2 separate regions of the Homo sapiens genome follow, and region 1 is linked to region 2. Evidence: fine-mapped expression QTL. A gene starts in region 2. The other region holds a variant in brackets. All regions are shown on one strand. Distances are from middle to middle. Region 1 has its middle 38 kb from the start of ARL5A. Region 2 holds the start of NEB (nebulin).

What was found.
Region 1: its variant is fine-mapped to the expression of NEB in blood mononuclear cells (TOPMed, PIP 0.98).

Annotation. Positions count from the first base shown.
Region 1 is chr2:151,787,752-151,793,143 of GRCh38, forward strand. No RefSeq gene overlaps it. Among named protein-coding and RNA genes, the nearest start is that of ARL5A, 38 kb to the right of the region's middle. The variant C/T (reference allele first, on the strand shown) is at 2,096.
Region 2 is chr2:151,731,648-151,737,039 of GRCh38, forward strand. NEB (nebulin) reads right to left here and starts at 2,829. Exons shown (of 182, transcript NM_001164508.2): 1 at 2,751-2,829; 2 at 2,065-2,148; 3 at 1,474-1,538. The coding sequence starts at 1,509.

The DNA of each region.
Region 1 (5,392 bases), 56 kb after region 2:
TTTGTTAAATGTAGAACTTAATTCTTGCTCTATATACCTCTCAGGATTGTGAGAATAAAGATGATACATGTCAAATCAACTTGGAAATTATGGCACTATTGTAGAGGTGGCAAGAAATGGGAAATACTTTAGCAGACATATTGGACTAAGTTCCCAGCCAAGAACCAAATAATTTAAAAAATATTTAAGTGCAAAGAAACCACTAAGGCAACATGTAACCTCCTTTTACTAACAAATAGATGTAGTAATAAGACAAATCCAGGCATATAGTACTTACATCACTTTATGATAATACATGCTAAGGAAAAGTAAAATTGGCCAAACCCTGAAAGTTTCTGTTCTGTATATGTATGGACACCCCCAATGCATGCCATGCTGGTAGTGGGGATATGGAGCTGAATGGGATCGAGTCACTGCCCTCCAGAGGCTTGCAGTCTGGAACGACCTGCTGAAAATAGACAAAAATCCCGCACTATGGCAACAGAGAAAGACGTGCTGAACCGTCTTCCAGATCAGGCCAGGCCTCCCAGGCTGATGGGAGAGCTCAGTCTTCAAGGATATGTCAAAGATTGCTATGTGAGAAAAGGAAGGAAAAGGCATTCTAGGTGGAAGGAACAGGCTAGATCAAGGCATGAGACAGAAAGAATAGATGTTTAGAATACATTTAATTATAATAACCAGTATTCAATATTTTAGAAATTGTTAAAAAGACAATCAGCAAAACCACTATTTATTGAGGTTCCAAAATATATTGGGCTTGTGTTAAGGGCTCTGATACATACTTAGTTAAAAATATAATGAAACTAAGGTCCAGGGATGTTACTTAGCTTGCTGATAATGTTGTGGGCATATTAATAGGGTGTCTTTTTTTCACAGTATCAGGCTGATGATTTTTCTTGGCACCATATCCTACTTACAGTTAGCTTTCTAAGAAAAAGATCAGGTAAAGTTAAAACATTTTTAAAGTTCTCCAGTTTGATTCTTATCTGTAGGCACATCTTTGTAATAAACGTAAAATAGCAGCATTCTTTACATGGCATAAGGTAGTTACAATTCCTTCCAAAGGAATAAGAACTAGGAAATTCCTGGGAATAGTCATTATAGGTCAATTTGACTCAACCAATTGTCTACTGTTTCTGAAGAACTTTTAAAAAGCTTTATTGCTAATCATTCTTCCCTGCCACTTGCCTTCTTACCTCAAATGTAAAAACTGAGTAACAAAAACTTTAAGGCAAAGCTCTTATTTTACAATATCATTTCAGGATTAAAAACAACAACATGAATTGAGTCACAACTATGTGCTTGGATCATAGAACTAGTTTACTTTCTTAATTGAATTAACATAACAGCATCATTTTAAGATTTGTGTAACTAGAGCAGGGTATGGTGGTGCAGGCCTGTAGTCCCAGCTATTCAGGAGGCTCAGGCAGGAGGATCACTTGTACTGAGGAGTTGAAGTCCAGCCTGGGCAACACAGTCAGACCTTGTCTCTAAAACTAAAATAAATAAATAAATAAATAAATAAATAAATAAATAAATAAATAAATATGTGTGTACCTGAGGCAAAGAACAGGCAGAAATACTGATGATCATTCTGCCAAGTTGGCAAAGAAGCCTTGCCCTTTTTTTTTCTATTAGCAGTACTTAATGTTCACTACATTCATTCATTCACGAGTTATTTTTTATATAAAGGTCATTAATGACATTAAATTGCCTATTATAATGGCCCAATGTAAACATCAGCAGTTTGTCAGCAAGAAAAGCTTCATTATTCACAAATGCTGGTCAAGTCTTGCTACTAATTCATTTGATGACAGAATGACCAACTGCCCCTTAAGCTGACAACCCTTCCCCTCCACTGCTATCACTGCAAAAACACATTGTCCCCTATCTGAACATGATAACCGAGTGTCGTTTCTGGGTAACACTGAGGTGATTCAAAACACACTTCATAATTAACAATGTGAATTATTTCACATCATCCCATCTCTTTATCATACCGTCATTCTTCCAGGCAGCAAGCTCCAACTGCTCTGTGCCTCCTTCCTCTCTTTCTCCTCATATCTAGTTACCACAACTCCTCTTCTGCCCAGAC[C/T]AGTCCTGCAGGAATGTTTTTCTTCTTCTTATCCCCCTTTTTCATGAATTAAAAAAAAAATTATTTTTAGTTGACAAATTGTATGTATTTATGGGGTATAATGTGGTATTTTGATATGCTGGAGTAATTATTAATAGTGCCTTCTTTGACTCTTAAGCATGTCCCATTTTGGCTGATAACTTATATGGTTACTTACCCATATTCCATTAGATATCAAGTTTATCTTTGCCTTCTCTGCCTTGTTTCAGGCCTTCATTTTCTTTCACCAGGGATAATATAATAATCTATTTATGATGTTATCCCCAGTTTCCTCTCTTTTCAACCCATCTTTTAGAAGTTGCCACAATAACTTTCATTTTAAGAGGCTGGCCTTAAACTGTTATTCCCAGGCCAGGTGCAGTGACTCATGCCTGTAATCCCAGCACTTTCGGAGGCCCAGGTGAGAGGATCATTTGAGTCTAAGAGTTTGAGACCATCTTGGGCAACATAGCAAGACCACATCTCTAAGAAAAAAAAAAAAAAATTAGCCAGGCGTGGTGGTATGTGCCTGTAGTCCCAGCTACTTGGGAGGCTGAGGTGTGATGATCACTTGAGCCCAGAAGGTCAAGGATGCAAAGAGCCATGATCATGCTACTGCACTCCAGCCTGGGAAACACAGCAAGATCCTGTCTTAAAACAAAATAAAACAAGCAAACCTTCAGTGGTTCCCCAATGCCTACTACTACTGCCACCTCACTTTAGTCTATAAGGACTGTTGACTCTTGCTATCACTGTCTCTCTTCATATAGCCTCCAGTACACCTGATGTGAACTATTCACTTTACATTTGGAGTGGGTTTTTGTTTGTCTGTTTGTTTGTTTGTTTGAGATAGTCTCATGGTCCCCTGGGCTGGAATGCAGTGTTGCATGTTGCAATCATGGCTCACTGTAGCCTCAACCTCCCAAGATCAAGTGATCTTCCCACCTCAGCCTCCCAAGTAGCTGAGACAACAGGCACATGCCACCATGCCTATTTTTTTTGTTTGTTTTTTGTAGAGATGCGGGTCTCACTATGTTGCCCAGGCTGGTCTCAAACTCTTGGGCTCAGGTTCTCCTCCTGCCTGGGCCTCCCAAAGTGCTGACATTACAGGTGTGAGCCACCACACCCAGCCCCTTTGGGTGTTTTTAAATATAACTTTGGCATTTATAACAAATGCAACCACATGTTAGATCTTATTAGAAGTACTAAACTTTTAGGACACCAGATCAGGTTGAAGAGTATTTTGAGTACAGCAGTTAAACCATTTAAAAAGACCATTACCATTTACAACTAATTCTCTGCGGGCATTTGATGTCATTACTACACAGCCAAAAAGAACCTATCCCACAAACCAACCAACCACCAAACCATCTAAAGCAAAACACATAATATCAAGGCATAAGCTAAAAAGGTAATCTCTTTACATCTGCAATAATTGGTAAGAACTCTGTCAAAATCAGACTTGCACTGAAGGTTGCAAATGGCATTGCATCAGTGAATTTTTACCAATCACCTTTTGTTGTTGTTGTTGTTGTTGTTTTTTAATTTCAACTTTTATTTTAATTTCAGGGGATTTATGTGCAGGTTGTTACCTGAGTGTATTGCATGAAGCTGAGGTATGGGGCATAAATGATCCCATCACCGAGGCACTGAGCATAGTACAATAAAGCTTTTCAACCTTTGGCCCCCTTTCCCTTACCCCTCTAATAGTCCCCAATATTGCTGCCATCTTTATGTTCATGAGTACCCAATGTTTAGCTCCCACTTATAAGTCAGAACATGTGGTATTTGGTTTTCTGTTTCTATGTTAATTCGCTTAGGATAACAACCTCCAGCCACATTGCAAAGGATATTATTTTGTTCCTTTTTATGGCTGCATAGTATTCCACTTACCAATCATCTTGATCTCTGAACTGAGAGCTTCATCCCATTTACTTAATACAACTTTTGTATTCCTTCCCATCCCTATTAGATGATTCTTTAAAGACAAAATGATTCAGCAATGTTTTCTGATTATTGGTATAATGCGCTCAATATAGAATATCTGTAACATACAAAATCGTAATCAGAAAAATACTGGTTGTAATGTTGCCGCCTACAACTCCTAATGTTATAATACATTTCTTTCTTCTTTTTTTTTTTTTTAAAGACATAGTCTCACTCTGACACCTAGGCTGGAGTGCAAACACAGCTCGCCGCAGCCTTGAACTCCTGGGCTCAAGTGATGCTCTCACCTTAGCCTCCTGAGCAGCTGGGACTATAAGGTACCTGTCACCATGTCTGGCTAGATTTAAAAAACATTTTGTAGAGACAGGGTTTCGCCATGTTGCCCAGGCTGATCTTGAGTTCCTGGGCTCAAGCAGTCCTCCGGCCTCAGCTTCCCAAGGTACTTTCCTATCTTTTTTCTATGTTTTTTGTTCTCGCATAATTCAGATGATAGATGTAAAAGTTTATATTATAAAAAAATTGTTTATCCTGTTTAACATGTCACAACCATTAATAATTTCCTCATATTATTTAAATCTGTTAAAATATTTAATGGTAGCATGTTTTATCATATAACTCAACTGTTTTTAATATGATGGACATAAATGGATGGACACTGGGTGACTTTTCTGAATGAACACAGGACTTCCTACACAGGACTGGCATTTAGGGCTGACAGCATAGATGGACACATTGGTGGGAGAGCATCCTAGAAGCAGAAGACTGGCCGTCTATGGTAGATAATAAAAGTTGTTCATTATTCTTCCCCAACATTAAAAAAAGGTCAGCTGAGAGATTGTATACATCTTTTACCTTCTACCCTTCCCAAAAGGAGTCAATGATTAGCATAGGCTGAATACATTATAAGCCGGTTAACAAGTAAACTGCACAATAAAGGCTAAAGATCACAGAAACCTTGTGGGCGGAGGGAAGCTTTGCACTGCCCACTGCTGGAAGGACTGGTGAACATGTAGCATGACCTGAAGATGCCCAGAGTGGTGGTGGCCTGTGACAGTAGTCAACAGGTTTACAAATCTTAATATAAAGTGTCTTAATATAGAGATGGCCGTGTATATGCTGAAGAATTGACCAGGATGTGGGGAATCTTTTCGGAAGACAATTAGGCAACAGGCTACCAAAGCCTTTTAAAAGGCCATATGCTTTGACACAGCGATTGGACTTGTGAGAATTCATTCTATGAAAAATAAATCCAAATGTTAACTACAGTAAAATTACTGCAATGGTAAGAAATAAGGAACAACAATGTACATCAACATTAGACTGGTTAAATAA
Region 2 (5,392 bases):
TAAAAATAGCCACCTCCTTTTTTATGACATCTAGTTGAATCAATCAAGTCTAGCACTAAGGACAATTTCCAGTGGCAAAGGTACACAATTATTTTAAGAAAGACAAGGGATATTTAAGTTGGAGAGTAAAAACTGTTACTGGCATTATTATCATAGGGAAGACAATTTAATTTATAATTGTATTAGTGTTTGACAGTGATATTTCTGACCCTTAGGTACATAAGTAAAATGCACACTAGTGATAATATCAGCATGAAAGATGTGGTATCAGCATTTAAGCCAGAGAGGCTGAGTGTTACATTGTACGAGATTCATTCTATTTTTTCCCTCATATCCTTCAGTAATAAAAGCTATTTTATTTGTAGAATAAATAAAATTTTCTTCATCTAAATATAGACTGGTCACTAAAATAATTTTCCAAAGAGAAATTTTGGCACTGCCACCTAAAATTTGGTTCTGGGTAGCTCTTACAGTTAATTTCAGTCTTATTAAAAAGCACAGATTTTCAAAACTGCCTCCAAGTGCCTTAGGCATTTGGAGATTTTCATGTGTTTAGATCATCATCATTAATTGGTAATTATTAAGCACATTCAGATTCATGGCACTGTATTTATGTGCATTATAGTTCCAAGCCTTTAGATTTTATTTCTAGAATGTGAAGCTAAAGGCAAGAGCCGGTGAGGAAAAACCGTAAGATGATAAAAACAAAAGGATGTAAAATAAATATAAAATAAATGATTAACAGCTTTGTAAAATGTGTTAGATGTCCACTAATAATTGGAAGGAAAATTTTCAAGATACCCACTATAGTCTTTGTTCTTATTCAAAATTCAAAAGCAAAAGCTAGTCTTGTTGACTTGGGTAAATATAATGAAGTTGGTAGGAAGGTGTGGCTCCAACAATCGCTGTGACCTTCATGCCTTTATTTATATTTGCTTGTATGTGTGTGTCTGTGCACATGTGTATGTATTATGTATAAAGTCTCACATCTGCATATAATTTCATACATATGATTATTCTGAATATCTAACCCATGTTACCCTATAGATGATTAGCTAGTTGAAGCAAAGAATAAGGAGTAGATCTTTTCTTCTATTGCTATACAGATACTAAGAGACAGAGTTCCATTTTCAGAACTTTCTCTTCGTCTCTGTCCCTTTGAACATCGGGGTTGGGAAGTGGGGAAGAAAGCAGTTTTAGAAGACGAATTAAAACCTGCCTTTACTCCAACTTGGTTTTTTGAGAGCTTAAAGAAAAGCAAAAGTGGGAAACAGTGATATTTCCTGTCAATTCTAAATCCCACATAATTATAGTGAAACTGAACATAAAATATTCCTTTCTTATGCTTTAAATGATGACTCTTTGTGAAGTTATAATAGACAATGTATTTTTCGAATGATTAATTCACCTACACAGCTTTGATTGTCACTACATAAAATAGTTTGCTGTCAGTGTTTTTTTTTTAAATCTTACCTCCACCACCTCCTCATAGTCTTCGTCATCTGCCATTTTTCCAGAGTAGTAGTGGCACCTACAAACTTTTCATATTCCATACAAATGAAAACATATTAGAGTCTATTCCCAGCACAGAAATTATCTTATGACATTATAAAAATAGAATTTGAAGCTAAACTATTGTACAAATTCATATATTGTTGCAGGCTAAAGGAGAGAAGACATTTAAAATACAAGTATAAACAGCAGAAGCTTCAAATTTCTTTCTCTTTATTCCTTCAGTGTTGGGAATTGCTACTTCTACATAATCAGTTTAGTTAAAATTGTAAAACGAAATTGAGGTAAGGAAGTGAGAGAGTTTGGACTCAGGGAACAGAGAATTTAAACTTCCAAACACTTAGAGAAAAGACATTTTCCAGCAAAAATTTTAGTGAAAGGTCAGCTTGGGTTTCAGAAGAAGCTGAAATTTATCCCCCAGCACCAAAATTCTAAGAGGGCTGACTTAGTTTTCCATACTGCCCTGATCCACTGTTTGCAATATATCTTAGGCTTCAAATTGGAACCCATAAAAATACATCTGTCAATAAATTTTAAAAGAAAAAAAGAAACCTCAAGGCAATGGGGTTATTTTCTTCCCGAACACCATTGGCTTATACAGACTTTTTCTTTCGTTTCTGTAGCTCTCGTTCAAACCTGAAAAATAACAAAGTTGTAAAGCATTGATTGAGGTACATATAGGATTGTCAGTCCTTAGCCTAAGCTTCTAATGCAGAAAACAGCGAAAGGATCTCTCAAGGCCTCTACAGTTTGACGCCAGAGAGTAAGACTCTTGATATGAAGTGGATGATGAGTTGGAACAGCTGTCCCTTCATCCAAAGATGTTTGCCATGTAAACCAATACCCTGCAGTGGCTGGTTTTGTTAAGCTAGCGAAACTGCCACTCCTCAGGCAAATGAAGCCCAGTAGAACAGGATAAATATAGGAACGTAGAGCAGCGTATCTTCTTTTTCACACTAATATATTTAGAGAAAAATATCAAAGGCAAAAAAATGTTAGACAAGAGAGCCAATTCAGTCAAGCAATAAATTGGTTAGCAAAGGACTTGACTCTAATCACACACGGTACATAGCAGATATTAGTAGGGCCTTAGTAGGGCAATGGGGTTAAACTCTCCTAGCCATATTTCTACCACTAATTTCCTCAGTTATGGCCCAAACCTTTGAAAAATACTTCGAGGGAAGTTGTGGAGCATCTCCTGAAAGAGTATTACAGAAAAAGTCATAAACTGGCCTTACCTTCAATCTACCAAATAAATTTCCTCAGCAGCAAAGCCTCTCCCAACTCTCCCCTCCTGAGAACCCCAGGCAAAAGCCAGCGTGATGCCTGGGCTCCGAATTATCATGTGGCAAGAGCAACCAATCAGATCTTGAGTTGCTCAAATTTCAGAAGCTAAATTTACCAAGTGATCTTCTGAAAACCACCTGTTCATCAATTCCACTAAAGGATAAAGGGTAACAAATTGCTTGCTTAGAACAATTCAAATGGAATCAAATTTTACCTAACTTCCAGCCTGTGCAGTTCAATTTTAGGTTGAATTTCCCATTTACTGAGGCCCCATTCAATGTCATATTCATGCAAAAGAATTTAGTAGAAAATAAGCATGACTTTGAGAGGCTTTAACCCTTCCGTGACTGCTTTCTTCATGTCATTTGTCCAGTCATGGTGGTAAATGTACTCACTCTGGTAAGGTTCACCAGGTGAGCTACAGGTAAGTTACTGGTGCTAGTGTGAAAGAAACTGAGGAATAAGACCCAGTAAACATCAAGTTGACAAAAGCAATTTTTAAAAATGTGATGAGTGAAGTTAAAGGTGAAAATATTTGACAATGGCACTAAATAAGATATCCACAGGGTGTAATTAGAAAGATTAGACCCCATCATTTTTCTGTTACTAAACCAAGAGGGTATACCAAAATCCTATTTAGCACCTTCTCCCTCCTTAGATAAGGCAAGCTGCTAGGAATACAGAACCTCTCTCATATGTAACCGAGTTAGTGATTTTTCTATTAACTCAGATGACTCCTGGCTCCCAGAAGCAACGTGTGAATGCGGACACAAACAGGCTCAATTTCTGAACAGCAAGAGCAGATAACATGGAAATCAGTAACTTATCAGGAGAAAATAATGCCCTATTTGGCAAATCCGAACGTAAGACATTTCCTTCATAAAAATTATCTAACCATTTTCTTAAAACTTGCCTGATGTCTTTCTTGCACTTTCTTTGCTCCTGAAGTATTTTTTCTAATTTAAAATCTAATTCTATCTGTCTGTCTGTCTGTCCTTACACACAGCGACAGAAATCACAGGCTCTTATGTGACAGAGAACTGCTCTTTCTCTGGGTTGCTCCTGTATTCAGGCAAAACCCTGTGAGTCACCTATATCTTGATATGGATTTGAGATTAAACATATTGTAATATTTTTTCTTTTTTAAGTTAAACATTAGAAAGTAATCTCGCTGGGCGTGGTGGCTCACGCCTGTAATCCCAACACTTTGGGAGGCCGAGGCGGGCAGATTGTCTGAGGCCAGGAGTTTGAGAAAGTAATCTCATATTTCAAATACATGTACCTTTTCCCCCTCCATGATTCACATGGTAGTAAATAAAATCTAACAGAATTTTATCATCTTAACTGATTATACCTGTTCATCTTGTATGTTCTCACAGGTCTTATGACCAAAGGATATTTATGTAATATGAGATCACTCACTTGGTAGCTGCAAACTAGAATTGTGACTTACTAGTCATTACATGCTTTAAAATGTGTTGTTGAATTAAAAAATAATACAGGCCCATACTTTAAAAACATAGAGTACAAAATTATATAAAGTAAAAAATGAGCATTGACCTTCTTAGTCATTTTTAAGTTTCAGATATTTTCAATATAGATATTGACATAAATCGATATACTTAATATGCAATAGACATTTTTATGAAACATCACATAAACATATCCTACTCTAATTTCCACAAATAATTCTATTGATTGGATAGAGTATAATAGTTTAATCATTATTAATGGACATCTAGGTTGTTTCGAGGTTTTTGCTATTACAAAATAAAGCAAAACAATGCGAAACAAAACACACAGTAAGCATCCCTGTACATTACCTTTGTATACTTATATGAAATGTATCTGTAAGGTAAATTTCTAGAAATAGAAATACTGAGGCAGAAGATATATGCACATTTTGAAAATTGATAGATATTGTCAAGTTGCCAGTCAAAATCCTTACACTATTTTATGTTTCACTAACAGAGAATGAGGGTTCCTATGTATACACATCTCAATATCCTTAGGGATTATTAGACTGAAAAATCATTACTATCTGAGCTGAATGTGTCCCCCCAAAATTTATATGTTGAAGTCCTACCCCCCGATGTGTGGAAAGTGATTGGGTCATAAGGGTGGAGCCCTCACGAATGGGATTAGTACACTTATGAAAGAGGCCCCAGAGAGCTGCCTGGCACTCTCTCTGCCATGTGAAGTTACAGGGGGATGATGGCCAGCCACAACCTGAAAGAAAGTCCTCACTAGAACCCAACCATGCCAGCACCCTGATCTTAGACATCCAGCCTCTAGAACTATGAGAAGTAAATTTCTGTTTATAAGCCATCCAGCTTATATTATTTCTGTTATAGCAGACCAAATGGACTAAGACACTCTTTATACATTACTTTTGAAACCACTATGATAGTAAATAGAAGTGCTACAGATGAGCAGAACCTCAAACTCCATTCATAATGAAGTGTGCATCTAAAAAGTTAGGGTGGGGGGTGGGGCAAGAGTGAGTTCACATGAAATTACCCTGGCTTAGATCTCTTGGGATAAATTCCTCCTAAAAGAAAGCCCCAAAGCCCCTGCTAAACTGGCCTGCTGC